Regions from separate parts of the Homo sapiens genome. Here region 2 is linked to region 1. Evidence: fine-mapped expression QTL. Tissue or cell type: fibroblasts. Region 1 holds a variant in brackets; the other region holds the start of a gene. All regions are shown on one strand. Distances are between the middles of the regions.

Region 1 (8,356 bases):
GTAGTAATCCCAGCACTTTGGGAGGCTGAGGCGGGCGGATAACGAGGTCAGGAGTTTGAGACCAGCCTGGCCAACATGGTGAAATCCTATCTCTATTAAAAATACAAAAATTAGCTGGGCATGGTGGCAGGTGCCTGTTATCCCAGCTACCTGGGAGGCTGAGGCAGAAGAATGGTTTGAACCCAGGAGGCAGGGTTTACAGTGAGCCACGATCACACCATTACACTCCAGCCTGGGTGACAGGGCGAGAGTCCATCTCAAAAACAAACAAACAAACAAAAAAGTAGTAGAGTTCTTAGCATTTTTGGGTCTAATCATATTAAGCAGCCAACTCCAGAAACTCCAAAACCAATGAAAGAACTCCATCCTTAATATTCTGTTCTTCTAGAACCACTCCTGGTACCAGAATCTGTATTAGTCAGGGTTCTTTAGAGGGACAGAACTAACACCTTCCTCAATACTCTGAAAGGCAGTTTTGGCATTTCATTTTACTTACAGGTCATATCATCTCTAAGCTTTAAGGGCCAACTCAGTGGTATATTAAGATCAAAGGCATGACCGGGCATGATGGCTCACACCTGTAATCCCAGCACTTTGGGAGGCTGAGGTGGTAGACTGGTTGAGCTCAGGAGTTGGAGACCAGCCTGGGCAACATGGCGAAACCCCACTTCTACAAAAATTTAAAAATTAGCTGGGCATGGTGATGCATGCCTGTAGTCCCAGCTACTTGGGAGACTGAGGTGGGAGGATGGCAGGAGCCCAGGGAGGTTGAGGCTGCAGGGAGCCAAGATCACACCACAGCACTCCAACCTGAGTGATAGAGCCAGACTGTTTAAAAAAAAAAAATCTCATTGCTCCCCACCTCTAAAAAAAAATAAAGGCATAGTAAGAGTGCTCCTGTGTCTATAACCTCTCTTTCAGTTTTATATTCAGACCCCTCTCCTTTTCTTCGCTGCCCCTCCCTGAAAATCTTAAGTTCCCTTCTCACACGTGTTCCCCTGGCTCCAGGTGGTCTTGCAGTTCTCTTGATGAGCAAGCTGTTTCTTCCCACAGCTGAGACTATTTCTCTGCTGGGGCTGTGTGACCAGTTATTGGTCCAGAAGCAGTGAGGGGAGGCATGGGCTCATCTTAAGGAGGACAAACATAATTTTGCAAAGCATTCATCCCAGGCAAAGCTTTGCATATTCTCCAGGCAAGGTGCAATTGCTTTCCTCTAGCAAGGGGCAGAGACGCTTGATTTCAGGGGAATCTGGTGGGGAGGTGCCATGTTTTTCAGGTGCTCCAATGTCCCCATCCAAGGTCCCAGAGTCCCACTTCTCTCTCAGGACCCTGACATTAGCATGGAAGACCTGTCAATGCTGAACCCATATGATAAAACCTGAACCTGATTTTAGCTTAATGAACCATCCAGTTGCAGCAGATGAACCCTTAAAGTGCTGCCATGGAGGCCTTCTGACTTTTTTCAGCAAGCCCTAAGTTAGTAATTGGCCTCTCAAATCTGTCATTATCTTTCTCTAAGGCTTCCAAGGCAGGTAACAAAACCCAGCCAACTCCACAATCCTAGTTATTACCACTGCCCCCACACCATTTAAATGTAGGGCTTCTGCATCACCAAATACTTTCCCTTCCACCTGGTTCTTATTCCAATACACAAAAGGTGAGACTTTTCATAATTGGCAGGTTACACTCTGCTACAGCTTATTTCTACCCCACTTACCACTAGCATTGGGTCCTGTGGCTATACACCTGTGAACGATCCAGTTCAAGAATTCCAGTCCTCAAACTCTGCCTCTCTGGGGCCAATTTCAGTAGCAATTTATTTCCTGTTCCCTCAGAAACAGAGCCTGAGAAAAGAACTTCGAGTTCAGGTAGTTTATTTGGGAGGTAATCCCAGAAGCAAATGTGAGCAAATAGAGTGAGGCAGAAAGGGAGGAAAAGCCAATATCAGGGTGCATTCATTGAGGTCAATGCTGTAACTAATGGGATTAGGTTCTACCAGGACCCCCAAGACACATACAGAATTCCCCCTAAAATTGCCAGTCCACTTGCTTCTCTTTGACTGTTGGTTGCTCCTGGGGACTTTACCTCCCTGCACATAGTGCATGCATGAAGATTAAGAAGTTCCTCTCAGAGTTGGAGAAAGGCCTGAGGCAGAAACTAAAAAGCCATGTGGCTTATTTTTGAAACGAGATTCTGTCATGAGCTCACATGAAACTGTCCACTACAACTGTGGCTGAAATTACAGATATGGGACACCAAAATCGTCTGCTACAAGAAGGTTGGAGCAGAATGTTGGGTGAAATCAGGGTGATGATTGCAGCACTGCAACCCTGTACAAGTCTTGCCTTGCCTGTGTTGACTGCCCCAGGGCTTCTTGTTCATTGAGACAATAGCTGGGTGTGGTGACATGCATCTGTAATCCCAGTGCCTTGGGAGGCCAAGGTGGGAAGATGACTTGAGCCCAGGAGTTCGAGGCTGCAGTGAGTTATACTCACACCATGGCACTCCAGCCCGGGTGACCTTGTCTCTTAAAAAAAAAGAAAAATAAATTTAAAAAATATTGAGATAATAAATTCCTTATTCATTTAAGCCACTGTAGTGGGGTTTTCTATCTCTAAAAGTTGAAATTCTGATATATATTAGCATTATTTAAAATACTGTAGAGGATTATTTGAGAAATCCTGCTTTAGATGAAAAAATGAAAAATGATAGGGAAAAGATGGTTTTCTCTTTCTCTATAATCTAATGACTTTCTTCCATATTTTGCCCTTCCATTAAGGTTCTTGATTCTGACTGCCATCACTTTTAAGCATGAAATGTTTATAATTTACTCTGAGAGATTGTGTATTTATTATATGGAATGGGAACCTTTGAATAGGAGATGAGTAAAGTTAGATTAGGGCTGGGCTACTTGAGGTCAATTAGAAATTTGAGGTAATTGAGAAACTTTATTATTTGCAGGCTGTGTGGTGAGAGATAAAGGTGGAAGGGAAGGGACAAGGAGGGATCTATAAGGGGCTTCCAACCCAGAAATGCTGTATGATGGTTTTCCCCATTAAGAAGGGTGGAGATTTAGCTGGGTGTGGTGGCACACACCTTGTAGTCCCAGTTACTTGGGAGGCTGAGGTGGGAGAATCACCTGAGCCTGGGGAGGTTGAGACTGCGGTGAGCTGAGGTTGTACCACTGCACTCCAACTTGGGTGACAGAGTGAGAACACGTCTCAAAAAAAAAAAAAAAAGATAGTCTTAATTTAACAAGACTATCATTTTATGGATAAAAAGGAAATTCAGGCATCAAACCCTTGAAGATGAGACTAAACATTACTTAGGTTTATAGAGATTTATTCAGGCCTGGTCTGAGAAATTGATGAATTGTTTTCAATTTCCAGTTTTTTAGCTGTCTAAGATTATCTGCAATTGCAATCGTGGACATTATTTCCAAGTTAAGTTCAGGAGCACCATTTTTTTTCGTTGTTACCTGAAAATATACTCGTCTACATGCGTGAGTCTACAACAGGGTATTTGTACAGGGGCAGGTGTGTTTGGTTATTTTGTGTGTGCGTGTGTGTGTGTGAGAGAGAGAGAGAGGGAGAGTGAGAGAGAGAGAGAGAGAATATGAGCAAGTGTGGATACTTATTTATTGCTACCATAATTTGTAAGATGCCAGGGAAAGAGATGGGTCAAGTTAAGGTTGAGATCGCTACTGGTCAATCAGCCTCCTTTTCCTAAAAGACCAAGTTTGAGGGTAAAAGAGGAAAAGGAGGTTGGGTCTCATGGTTGATATTCCTTTCTGGCTGATCTTTCTGGATATTTGGTGGCTTTCTGCATAATTTATCAACTTACTTGTTTTTTAATTATGATTGAATGCACATGATGTTAAACTTTTAAATTTTATGAAAAAATGTTTACATTACACATGGGTTTCTGTTCCTAACATTCAGGCTCAGACAAGTGCATTTATGTTATTTTGTATTTTTCAAGATGGCTGTTTTTACATAAAGTCATCCTAGGACATTGAAGATCTGATGAGTATACAATAAAGCATTTGTTTTGTTGCCTGGTGGAACTAATTAAATACACGGACAGACAAACAAGTGAAATCAGGATGCTCCTCTAATTCATCCAAGAAATCTCAAGAGAATGATATCTGTCTCTCTTGATATCTTAATTGCTGTAAATCACTCTGGCTCTTCAAGATCTAAATAATCCACAACAATACACACTTTTAAATGTATTGTTCCTAGGCTAGTAACTTCAAAATTTTTTTTTTCCTATTGGGGAAGGAATTCACACTCCTATATCTAAACTTAGTATGAAGTGGATCCATTCTACAGGTATAAAAATAACATTGAGATAGCATTTGAGGTTCAGCCTGTGTAAGTCAAGATGCCTTGTGTATTGCCTCACATGTAGGCAGGTGTGTACATATTCATTTTCATATAGGAAGGGAAATGGGGGCTGATGTAAA[G/T]ATATAAAAGACCATCTAGGTAGTTCCATCCTGCATTAATTTTAGGGGGTTGTGTGGGTGAAAATTGTTCTCTAAGTCAGGAAGCTCTAGGTTTCAGTGTGTAATAGTCTGTTTTCATGGTGCTATGAAGAAATACCCAAGACTGGGTAATTGATAAAGAAAAGAGGTTTAATTGACTCAGTTCTGCATGGCTGGGGAGGTCTGAGGAAACTTACAATCATGGTGGACACTACCTCTTCACAGGACAGCAGGAGAGAAAATGTGTGCTGAGCTAAGGGGGGAAGCCCCTTATAAAACCATCAGATCTCGTGAGAACTCACTCACTATCATGAGAACAGCATGGGTGAAACTGCCCCCCATGATTCAGTTGTCTCCACGTGGTCCCACCCTTGACAAGTGGAGATTATTACAATCCAAGGTGAGATTTGGGTGGGGATACAGAGCCAAACCGTATCACAGTGTGATCATATTGAGGTCTTCAGAGTAGGAGGCTATACTTATAGAGATGCTGTAGTGGAATTTCTGCGGGCTGACCTGCTTCATCTAACCTCTCTGTGCTTCACTTTCCTCATCTGTAAAATGGGGAAAATAATAGGAAACTTCCTCATGGGTGGTCATAAGGAATAAATGAATTAATACAGATAAAGAATTTAGAATACCACCTGGCTCATAATGAGCACTCAGTAAGCGTTAGCTGCCACCGTGATTACCATCCTCACCATCCCCATCATCATCATCACCATCATCATCGTCATGTCATGGGTAGACTCCTGGATGTGAGACTAAATTAAGCTTTAATAAACATGACTCTATTAACTTGTACCCCAACAAACTGAAGGAATTCAGGTGACAAAAAGTAATTAAGATACCCGATAGCTGACTTTTATAATTGTTCGCTAATTTTTCTGTATAACTCTCCTGATAATCTTTATGAGATAAGGTATTATGGCATGAATTGTGCCCCCCTAAAAGATATACTGAAGTCCAATCACCTGTACCTCAGAATTTGATCTTATTTGGAAATAGGGTGGTTACTGATGTGGTTAGTGAAGCTAAGATCATGTTGGAGTAGGATGGGCTTTTTACAATTTTTTATATATTATATATATTTATTATACTTTAAGTTCTAGGGTACATGTGCACAGCGTGCAGGTTAGTTACATATGTATACATGTGCCATGTTGGTGTGCTGCACCCATTAACTCGTCATTTAGCATTAGGTATATCTAGTAATTCTATCCCTGCCCCCTCCCCCCACCCCATAACAGGCCCCGGTGAGTGGTGTTCCCCTTCCTGTGTCCAAGTGTTCTCATTGTTCAATTCCCACCTATGAGTGAGAACATGCAGTGTTTGGTTTTTTCACCTTGCGATAGTTTGCTGAGAATGATGGTTTCCAGCTTCACCCATGTCCCTACAAAGGACATGAACTCATCATTTTTTATGGCTGCATAGTATTCCATGGTGTATATGTGCCACATTTTCTTAATCCAGTCTATCATTGTTGGACATTTGGGTTGGTTCCAAGTCTTTGCTATTGTGAATAGTGCCACAATAAACATACGTGTGCATGTGTCTTTATAGCAGCATGATTTATAATCCTTTGGGTATATACCCAGTAATGGGATGGCTGGGTCAAATGGTATTTCTAGTTTTAGATCCTTGAGGAATCGCCATACTGTCTTCCACAATGGTTGAACTAGTTTACAGTCCCATCAACAGTGTAAAAGTGTTCCTATTTCTCCACATCCTCTCCAGCACCTGTTTCCTGACTTTTTAATGATCACCACTCTAACTGGTGTGAGATGGTATCTCCTTGTGGTTTTGATTTGCATTTCTCTGATGGCCAGTGATGGTGAGCATTTTTTCATGTGTCTGTTGGCTGCATAAATGTCTTCTTTTGAAAAGTGCCTGTTTATATCCTTAACCCACTTGTTGATGGGGTTGTTTGTTTTTTTCTTGTAAATTTGTTTGAGTTTTTTGTAGAAGGATGGGCTTTTAATCCCATGTGACTGGTGTATTTTTTGGTAGAAGGAAATTTGGACACAAGAATACACAGAGGGAAGCAGATGTGGAGAAACACGAGAGAAGTCAGCCATGCGATAATGGGGGCAGATATTGGAGTGATACATCTCCATGCCAAGCAATGCCATTGGCTGCTGGCAATATCATCAACTAAAGGAGCAAGGAAGGATTCTCTCCTACAGGTTTCAGAGGCAGCACGGCCCTGTGCATATCTGGATTTCAGACTTCTAACTTCCAGAACTGTGAACCAATAAATTTCTGTTGTTGTAAGACACCCTGTTTGTGGTACTTTGTCACAGCAATCCTAGAACTAATCCAAAACGGAGTGGAAACATACCATTGAGGGGATGACAGAGCACTCAGGCTTAACCAATCAGGCTGCTGATTGATGATAGTATGATGTTCAAATGCTAAAAGCTTCCACTTTACATTTTTTTGATGGTTTTAAACCAATCTGATTTTTTTCCCCTCTCATTTTAATCTATCTCCATGATCTGTTATTCTGGGAAAACTTTCCTAACCTTTGTATAAGTGGTGAGCTTATGGACATACATTCTTTCCTATCAGACATTTGAACAAATCTCCTAAAATTTCCTCCTTTCCTCCCTTCCTTCCTTCTTTCCCTCTCTCCTTCCCTTCTCTGTTTCTCCCTCCCTTTCTTTCTTTCTTCCTTCCTTCCTGTCCTCCCTCCCTCCTTTCTTCCCTTCTCTCTCCTTCCCTCCCTTTCTTCCTTCCAGCAGGGCAGAGGGCCAAAGCAATAGGCAACCTTGTGTAGATTGCTCAAAGTCATGATCACTCCTCTTCTGTGGCTTTTTATTTTATTTTATTTTGAAGCAGAGTCTCGCTCTGCCACCCAGGCTGGAGTGCAATGGTGCCATCTCGGCTCACTGCAACCTCCACCTGCTGGGTTCAAGCAATTCTCCTGTCTCAGCCTCCAGAGTAGCTGGGATTACAGGTGCCTGCCACCATGCCTAGCTAATTTTTGTATTTTTAGTAGAGACTGTGTTTCACCATGTTGGCCAGTCTGCTCTCGATCTCCTGGCCTCAAGTGATCCATGCCTCGGCCTCCCAAAGTGCTGGGATTACAGGCATGAGCCACTGTACCTGGCCTTCTATGGCTCTTTAGAAAGGTAGGGATACTCCTGGTCTTTTGTGTTGATTTCCCCACCAAGATTTTTCCCTCTTCTTCACCCAACATCAATACCATTTGATTATTTTCAGAGCAAAAGCAGCCTCTTTTTGTGCTGCAGGCATCAACTAGATCCTTCCCCCACATGCCCCATATATTGATACCACTTAAATATTCCTATTTTCCAAAATCAGCTATTGGGCATCTGTCATGTTTCGGAACCAGTCTAATCTTTCCAGTGATACTCTCAGATTCAGGGTGGGCCAGCCAAGATTTGTTTTCAATACTCTTTCTGGTGACTTGGAAAATTCTTCTAGAATTACCAGTAAGTCCTACTTTCATTTTGCACAAATTACCATACAGTCAAATTTAAAATTTCATAGATGCCTAACCTGTAATAGAAGAAAAATGCAAAGTTTATAAAAGTATCTTTAACTCATTAACTAATTTTCTCTTGACTCATGTTTACTGCTCCTCAAGTTCCATAGGATGATAAGGTTTCATTTAAGTCAGCAGGGCGATTTTTTGGGGGTAGTTTTCATGACTATTCCTAAAAACACATTCTTCAGAAAATTTGTAGTAAGCATTACATTCTTTTCATCAGTAAAAATGTGTGGCCACTTGTTCTGATTCCATTGTGCTGTTTTGCAATATCTATGAAACACAAATGTAGCTTTAAAAATACATAGTATGTTTTCTCAGAGGTCTCAAACAAGGGAATGAACAAGGGCACCTGT
Region 2 (8,356 bases), 300 kb before region 1:
TTTATTTGCCATGCTTCCACATTCACCCTATAAAAGCCTTTCTTTGGTGCGCCTTTAACAGAGTCCCAAACTGATTCATGAATCACTGTCTGCTCAAATAAACATTTTAAGATTTTACTGTGCCTTAGTTTCTCTTTTAACAATGGTAATGATGTGGAAACATTTATCTGACAAATGTTTTTGAGAGGTATCAATTATGTAATATTCACTGACAAGGTTTACACCTATGCTGGTATTAAACAGAGACCATAATCATCTTCTTTAAATAATTGTATTAATCTAACATAGTCTTTATGATTATCTAAAAATATTTAGATCATTCTTTTTTGTTTGTTTGTTTTTGTTTTTGAGACAGGGTCTCACTCTGTTGCCCAGACTGGAGTGCAGTGGCGCAATCTCAGCTCACCGCAACCTCTGCCTCCTGCCTCAGCCTCCAGAGTAGCTGGGATTACAGGTGCACACCACCATACCCAGCTAATGTTTGTATTTTTAGTAGAGACAGGGTTTCACTATGTTGACCAGGCTGGTTTCGAACTCCTGACCTCAAATGATCCACCCGCCTTGGCCTCCCAAAGTGCTGGGATTATAGGCGTGAGTCACCATGCCCAGCCACATATTTAGATCATTCTAAAGAATACATTCATAGAAGAATCTTGTTTATAGTATTCAGGATTCCTTCCTTCCTTCCTTCCTTCCTTCCTTCCTTCCTTCCTTCCTTCCTTCCTTCCTTCCTTCTTCCTTTCCTTCCTTCCTTCTTCCTTTCCTTCCTTCGCTCCCTCCCTCCCTCTTTTCTTTCTTTCTTTGAGACGGAGTCTTATTCTGTCACCTAGGCTGGAGTGCAGTGGAGCAAACTCAACTCACTGCAACGTCTGCCTCACTGCAACCCAGCCTGGGCCACTATTTTAAAAATATAACATTTGAAGCCAGGCACGGTAACTCATGCCTGTAATCCCTGCACTTTGGGAGGGCAAGGCGGGCAGACCACTTGAGGCCAGTTCAAGACCAGCATGGGCAACATGGTGAAAACCCATCTCTACTAAAAATACAAAAAAAAAAAAAAAAATTAGCCAGCGTGGTGGTGGTGCACGCCTGCAATCCCAGCTACTTGAGAGGCTGAGGCATGAGAATAGCTTGAATCTGGGAGGCTGAGGTTGCAGTGAGCCAAGATCATGGCACTGCACTGCAGCCTGGGTGACAGAGCAAGGCTCTATCTTAAAATATATATATATATATATATTTATATTTATATATGTTTATATTTATATTTAAATATATATATTTATATTATATATATGAGTTGTGTCTTTAACAGCAAACAAAAGTTAGCCAGGGGAAGGTCGAGAATGCAAAAGGAAGAGCACTCACAAAGCCGAGGTATAAAGATGTTTAAGGAAGAAAAAGGAACTTGATAACGTTGGGAAGTAAATAAGTAAGGTAAATAGGAACTTAATTTGAAAGGCCTACAATGCTATTCTAGGGAGCAATAGTGGTCATTCATTGATGAATCAAAAGAACAATTTTGCCTTCTCTGCTCTTGTCTCCAGGCTGTGGTTACACAGCAGTACACATTGGAGATACTGGGCTCCACATTTAGCTGGAAGACATGCCATGTCTTCTTGAGTTCCCTCTAATCTTCCTCTCCCATTGCGCATAAAGGATCTTCAAACCTTCTCCGCACTCATGCCCCTTGTCCTACCACCTCCACAGCTCCTTCTCTACAGAAAAACTTGCCTTTTATTTCACAGAAGAAATGCAACCTAGAGGCCAAAGCAGGCAGATCACTTGAGCTGAGAAGTTTGAGATCAGCCTGGGGAACAAAGTGAGACCCCGCCTCTACAAAAATTACAAAAATTAGCTGGACAAGATGATTCATGTCTGTCGTCTCAGCTACTCGGGAGGCTGAGGTGAGAGCATCGCTTGAGCCCGGCAGGCGGAGGTTGCAGTGAGCTGAGATCATGCCGCTGCACTCCAGCCTGGGTGACAGAGTGAGACCGTCTCAAAAAAACAAAACCAAAAAACCCAACAACAACAACAATAACAAATCACACACAGGGTTTTGTGTCATGTTAATTTTTTTTTTTTAAACAGGGTATCATGCTGTCGCCCAGGTTGGTGCAATCTTGGCTCACTACAAATTCTCGGGCTCAAGTGAGGCTCCCACCTCAGCTTCCCGAGTAGCTGAGACTACAGGCCTGCACCACCACGCCTGGCTAATTTTTGTATTTTTTGTAGAGACGGGGTCTCACTTTGTTGCCCAGGTTGATCTCAAACTTCTCAGCTCAAGTGATCCGCTCGCCTTGGCCTCTCAAAGTGCTGGGATTACAGGCATGAGCCACCTCTCCAGGCCATGTCCATCCTATTAACATTTGGAAGTGCCTAGCACAGTGTACTCTTTAGAATTGTGGAATAACAATGATTGATGAAATGAAACATATACTTGAAGATGCTACTAGGGTATACGAGATTTTTTTTCTGACTTAGAACTACATCAAAGAAAGAAGGGCCTAAGACCAAGGTTTGGGAATGTACACAATGAATTGCTCAAAAGAGAGTTAGCTTTAGTAATGACAGGAAGAAGCTATTTCTTCAACCAAACAGAATACACACAGAAAAATTTAAAAGAGCCATTACACTGGCTGGCAAAACAGATGTGGATATTATGGCCCTGGTACACACGGAGTTTATAGTCAGGTACACTGTCCTGTCACAACGACCAATACGTTATCGTATTTACAGCGTTTTGGAGTTTCTGTCCATCTCTGTCAATATAATACACTTTGAAATAAGTTTCTTACTTAGAATCCCTAGCAGTGTTTGATACACAGTTGGAGCTCAATAAATGTTTACGGAGTGAATGATGAGGCACAAAAGGAATTTGTTGAATTATTTGTTAAATGAATCAAATAATTTTCTAGGATTCACGGGCTGTCTTCTGCACGATAAGCTTCATTCTGTGGGTCTGAGTTTCTCCTGGTTCTCAATTCTGTCTTTTTGTGGATTATCTACTTTGTAGCTGGAGCTTTGTATCTGTTTAAGATAATTATTCTTCTATTCCTTTTTTTTTTTTTTTTTTTTTGAGACGGAGTCTCGCTCTGCCGCCCAGGCTGGAGTGCAGTAGCGCGATCTCGGCTCACTGCAACCTCCGCCTCCTGGGTTCACGCCACTCTCCTGCCTCAGTCTCCCAAGTAGCTGAGACTACAGGCGCCCACCACCACGCCCGGCTAATTTTTTGTATTTTTAGTAGAGACGGGGTTTCCCCGTGTTAGCCAGGATGGTCTCGATCTCCTGACCTTGTGATCCGCCCGCCTCTGCCTCCCAGAGTGCTGGGATTACAGGCGTGAGCCTCCGCGCCCGGCTCTTCTATTCTTAGTAGAAGCAACCAGTAGCCCTAGCGAAACCAGACGTTAATTCCATTCTCGCAGTTCTTTTCCCCAGGGCAAGCAGCAAAAAATGCATTCCCACAAAAGAGCAAGCTCATCCCCAAATCCCGGGTTTCCCACCCCCACAAGCTTCAGGAAAACAGGAGCGAGGCACGTGAATACTTCTTTGGACCTCAGCGATCCCAGAACCTAGGCTACTAAAACATCCATAGGCTTAACCTCATCATATAACTTAAACAGCCTTCGCAACACCGAGAGCACCACACCAACACCTTCTTATCCAGCCCTGGTTGGGACAAGGGCTCCAACTCCAGACTGCAGTCCTCGGTAGCGCGGTGTCTTCTGGGATCTGTAGGCTCCCGCGGTTCGGCCTTCCTCCCTCTGTGACTCCAATTCCCGGCAGTCAGTGGGCTCCAAGGTCCGCCCTTTTTCTGGAGGAGGAGCTCAGAGCGTACGGGAGGGGGCGGACCCTTGCCCCTCCGGCGCTTGGGCCAGAGTGGTGCGGGCGGCGCGTGGCGGCGATCCCCACGTGGTGGCTTTCTCACGCTAGCCCTCTTTGGTCCTCCTTGACGTCCCGGGCCTGTGGGCCCGCTTTCTGCCGAGATGCCGAAGGTCAAGTCGGGGGCCATCGGCCGCCGCCGCGGGCGGCAGGAGCAGCGCCGGGAGCTGAAGAGCGCTGGAGGTGCGGATCCCCGCGAGGAAGCTGGGGTCGGTCGGGTCAGGTCTTCCGGCAGGACCTAGCCTGGGGTGCGGACCAAGACCTGATCGGCAGAGGCCGGTCAGGACGCGCTCCCGTGAGCGCGGAAGGCAGGGGTGGGTCCCCGACTCGGCCGCAGGCCCTGCGCGTCGCCGCTGACTTCCTTTCCAGCTGGAGGATGAACTTATAAAGAGTTTGTCAGTCCTGGCGTGACGTTTCGTGGCCCTGGTTGGCGCAGAAATCTTCCCCATACCCATGCAGCTTTCTTCTCTGGTACTGCCTAATATCTAATCTCAGTAGGAAAATTAATGCTGTTTCGTATTTTCTTACAGGACTCATGTTCAACACGGGGATTGGGCAGCACATTTTGAAAAATCCTCTCATTATTAACAGCATTATCGATAAGGTGGGTGTGGAAGAGGAAAGGGAGAGAGTTGTTGGTTTATTAATTTTATTCCTATGAATACATAAGCGCAGAAAGTCTGCCTGCCGTAAATTAGATGCTCTGTAAATATTTGTTGAATGAATCAAATAATTGTCTAGGATTCTTGGGCTGTCTTCTGCATGATAAGCTTCATTTTGTGGGTCTGAGTTTCTCCTGGTTCCCAATTCTGTGTCTTTTTGTGGATTATCTACTTTATAGCTGGACCTTTGTATTTGTTCAAGATAATTATTCTTCTATTTCTAATCACCTTTTTGATCACTTAGTTTTTATGTACTCCATCTATTTATGTCTAAACTACACATTAGAAAGTTTGTTCCCCAGAAAAACATATAGTACTACATATAAATTATTTGGTGTATGCTAGTACCACATATAAATTGCTTGGAGTATTACTGCTTTCTGAGTTATTGATGTTCTCTTATGGTTATGGATGATTGGGTGTTAGGAAGTGAAATACACACGGTGCAGATTACACTTATGGTTAAAAGCAAGGAAAGCATCCTGGAGCTGTAGAAAGAGCATTACATAGTTAAAGGATCTTGTCAGGCTTCGTGTCATTTGAAAACTGAGAAAAAAAGAAAGAAGGGTCATGTACTATTTTAACCTTTTTAGCTCATAGTTTCCTTTGAGCATCTGATGAAAGCTATGGCCGTAGAATATTAGAGCTGTGTGCAGACATTCAATTTTGTGTACAGTTTCTGCTCTTCTGCATCCTTGAAACCATACATGGGTTGAAAATTGAAAAATCTTCGCCCAACACGTACAGTCCTTTCCCATTTGAACTTGTTGATACGAACAGAGAAGGTAACAAGAGGCTATTGGAATATTTCCAGATAGAAAGCAGAATGCCAATCCCAGAAATGCTGTTGCTGCTTTTCTGACTCCTAAAGTTGAACAGTATTCCTCCAAGTTAGGAGAGGTCTTAGATTTTCATTTGCACCAAATGTTATTGAGGTAATTTTGTTAACCACGTAGATCATGAAGAAATCTAAAAATGGAGTCAGATTAAGAGCTCTTATCGGAGCACATATGAGTAAAGATGTTCAGGTGTAAATTAACTTCTGTGTTCTGATGTTGCCAGAAGAGCTAAAGTGTTTGTGCTTGCTTTTAGGCTGCCTTAAGACCAACTGATGTAGTGCTGGAAGTTGGACCTGGAACTGGCAACATGACTGTAAAGTTGTTAGAAAAGGCAAAAAAGGTAGAAAGGGGATTTAATGTTTGGTATCACAAATGACTATGTTAGCAAGCTCAGTTGGTTTACAATCTAAATATGTTTTAACTAATTGCTATTATTTTAGTAGTAACTCCTGATCCCTTGTTGGAAATTTTGTCTTAGAAAATATGAGATATTTCAGCCAGGCGCGGTGGCTCACGCCTGTAATCCCAGCACTTTGGGAGGCCGAGGCAGGTGGATCATGAGGTCAAGAGATTGAGACCATCCTGGGCAATATGGTGAAACCCCATCTCAACTAAAAATACAAAAATTAGCCGAGTGTGGTGGCAGGTGCCTGTAGTCCCAGCTACTTGGGAGGCTGGGGCAGGAGAATCACTTGAACCCGGAAGGCAGAGGTTGCAGTGAGCCAGGATTGCACCACTGCACTCCAGCCTGGTGACAGAGTGAGACTCTGTCTCAAAAAAAAAAAAAAAAAAAAAGGAAAATATGAGATATTTCAGTGAGGAAAACAGAAACCACATTAGGTATTTCAACAGGGAATTTTTTTTTTTTTTTTTTTTTTTTGGAGAGGGAATTTCACACTGTTCCCCAGGCTGGAGTGCAGAGATGCAGTCCTGGCTCACAGCAACCTCTGCCTCCTGGGTTCAAGAGATTCTCCTGCCTCAGCCTCCCCAGTAGCTGAGATTATAGGCACCTGCCCCCACACCAGCTAATTTTTGTATTTTTAGTAGAGATGCGGTTTCACCATGTTGGCCACACTGGTCTTAAACTCCTGACCTCAGGTGATCCGCCAACTTTGGCTTCCCAAAGTGCTGGGATTACAGGCATGAACCACCATGCCCAGCCTCAACAGGGAGTTTAATTAGGAAGGAAATACCCAACGCCTCCCCTTTGTACCCTATAATGCTGGTGCCTTTCACTGGCCAATTCCAACCAGAAGTTGAAAGGTAAGGGAGCTGAACTGCATTATCTGTAGGATGCAGAGAAAAGCGGATAATAGATCTGGGAGGGCCTTTCATGGTGGCTCACACCTGTAATCCCAGCACTTTGGGAGGCTAAGGCGGGTGGATGGCTTGAGCCTAGGAGTTGAAGACCAGCCTGGGCAACATGGTGAAACCCCATCTCTACAAAAAATTGGCTGGGCATGGTGGTGCCTGACTGTAGCCCTGGCTAGCAGGGAGGCTGAGGTGGGAGGTTTACCTGAGCCTGGGAAGTTGAGGCTCCAGTGAGCCATGATCCTGCCACTTCACTACAGCCTGGGTGACACAGTGAGACCCTGTCTCAAAAAATAAAAATAAAACTAAAGATAGATCTGGGAGCCAAACAGAGTAAGAAACACATTGTTTACCATGTAAACAGGGTCTATATAGAAGTAGGGCCAGGAGCTGTGGCCCACATCTGTAATCCCAGCACTTTGGGAGGCTGAGGCAGGAAGATTGCTTAAAGCTATGAGCTTGAGACCAGCCTGGGCAACAAAGCGAGACCCAATCTCTATAAAAAATAAAAAGGCTGGGCATGGTGCCTCCCGCCTATAATCCCAGCACTTTGGGAGGCCAAGGTGGGAGGATTGTTTGAGCCCAGGAGTTTTGAGACCAGCCCGGGCAACATAGAGAGACCCGTCTCTATTAAAAATAAAGAAAGGAAATTAGCCTGGTGTGCTGGTACACACCTGTGGTCCCAGCTGCACAGGAAGGTGAGGTGGGAGGATCCCATGAGCCCAAGACTTCGAGGCAGCAGTGAGCTATGATAGCGCCACTTCACTCCAGCCTGGGCAACAGAGTGAGACCCCATCTCTTAAAAAAAATTATTTTTTAATAAAAATAAAGTCAGTGAAACCTCAGCTGAAATTGCAATAAAATTTCAATTTCGGCCTTATTTGACATCCATTTTCATTTACTTGAGAAGTTATCTATGCCATGTATTGTGTATCTCAGTAGATGTGACATACTAACAGTAAGAGCAATTGCATTGTACGCTCTTCTCTAACAACACTGACTGCAGAGACATGTAGTGTATTTTTTTCATCATCTGTTGAATTACAAAGCATGGAGACAGATGAAACATGATTCTATTGATTATATGAGTAGAACTCTCACATAATCTGGTTGTCTACTTTTCTGGGTGGTGGTGTTTGTTTGTTTGTTTGTTTGTTTTTGAGATGGAGTCTCGCTCTGTTGCCAGGCTGGAGTGCTGTGGCGCGATCTCGGCTCACTGCAACCTCTGACTCCCTGGTTCAAACAATTCTCCTGCTTCAGCCTCCTGAGTAGCTGGGATTACAGGCACGTGCCGCCACGCCCAGATAATTTTTGAATTTGTTAGTAGAGACAGAGTTTTACCATGTTGGCCAGGCTGGTCTCAGTCTCCTGAACTCATGATCCGCCCACCTCAGCCTCACACCCGGCTTTTTTTTTTTTTTGAGATGGAGTCTCACTTTGTCACCCAGGCTGGAATGCAGTGGCACAGTCTTGGCTCATGGCAACCTCCGCCTCCAGGGTTCAAGCAATTCTCCTGCCTCAGCCTCCTGAGTAGCTGGGATTACAGGCGCCCACCACTAGGCCCAGCTAATATTTTGTGTTGTTTTTGTTTTTGTTTTGAGACAAGAGTCTCTGTCTCTTGCCCAAGCTGGAGTGCAATGGTGCGATCTCGACTCACTGCAACCT

Which allele goes with the higher level. Alleles are on the strand shown, and positions count from the first base shown. SD is a standard deviation of normalised expression in the study named.
For the expression in fibroblasts of the gene that starts at base 3,851 in region 2, G is the low allele of the variant in region 1 and T is the other (moderate effect, 0.60 SD a copy in GTEx).

The links. PIP is the estimated chance that this variant, and not a neighbour inherited with it, causes the effect.
Region 2: it holds the start of DIMT1, and the variant in region 1 is fine-mapped to the expression of DIMT1 in fibroblasts (GTEx, PIP 0.95).

The regions. Positions count from the first base shown.
Region 1 is chr5:62,094,403-62,102,758 of GRCh38, reverse strand. All of the region lies in intron 1 of LOC124900610 (a long non-coding RNA gene), which reads left to right. Among named protein-coding and RNA genes, the nearest start is that of KIF2A, 210 kb to the left of the region's middle. The variant G/T (reference allele first, on the strand shown) is at 4,469.
Region 2 is chr5:62,399,400-62,407,755 of GRCh38, reverse strand. DIMT1 (DIM1 rRNA methyltransferase and ribosome maturation factor) reads left to right here and starts at 3,851. Exons shown (of 12, transcript NM_014473.4): 1 at 3,851-4,062; 2 at 4,410-4,483; 3 at 5,634-5,720. The coding sequence starts at 3,984. RefSeq lists an enhancer at 3,641-3,930.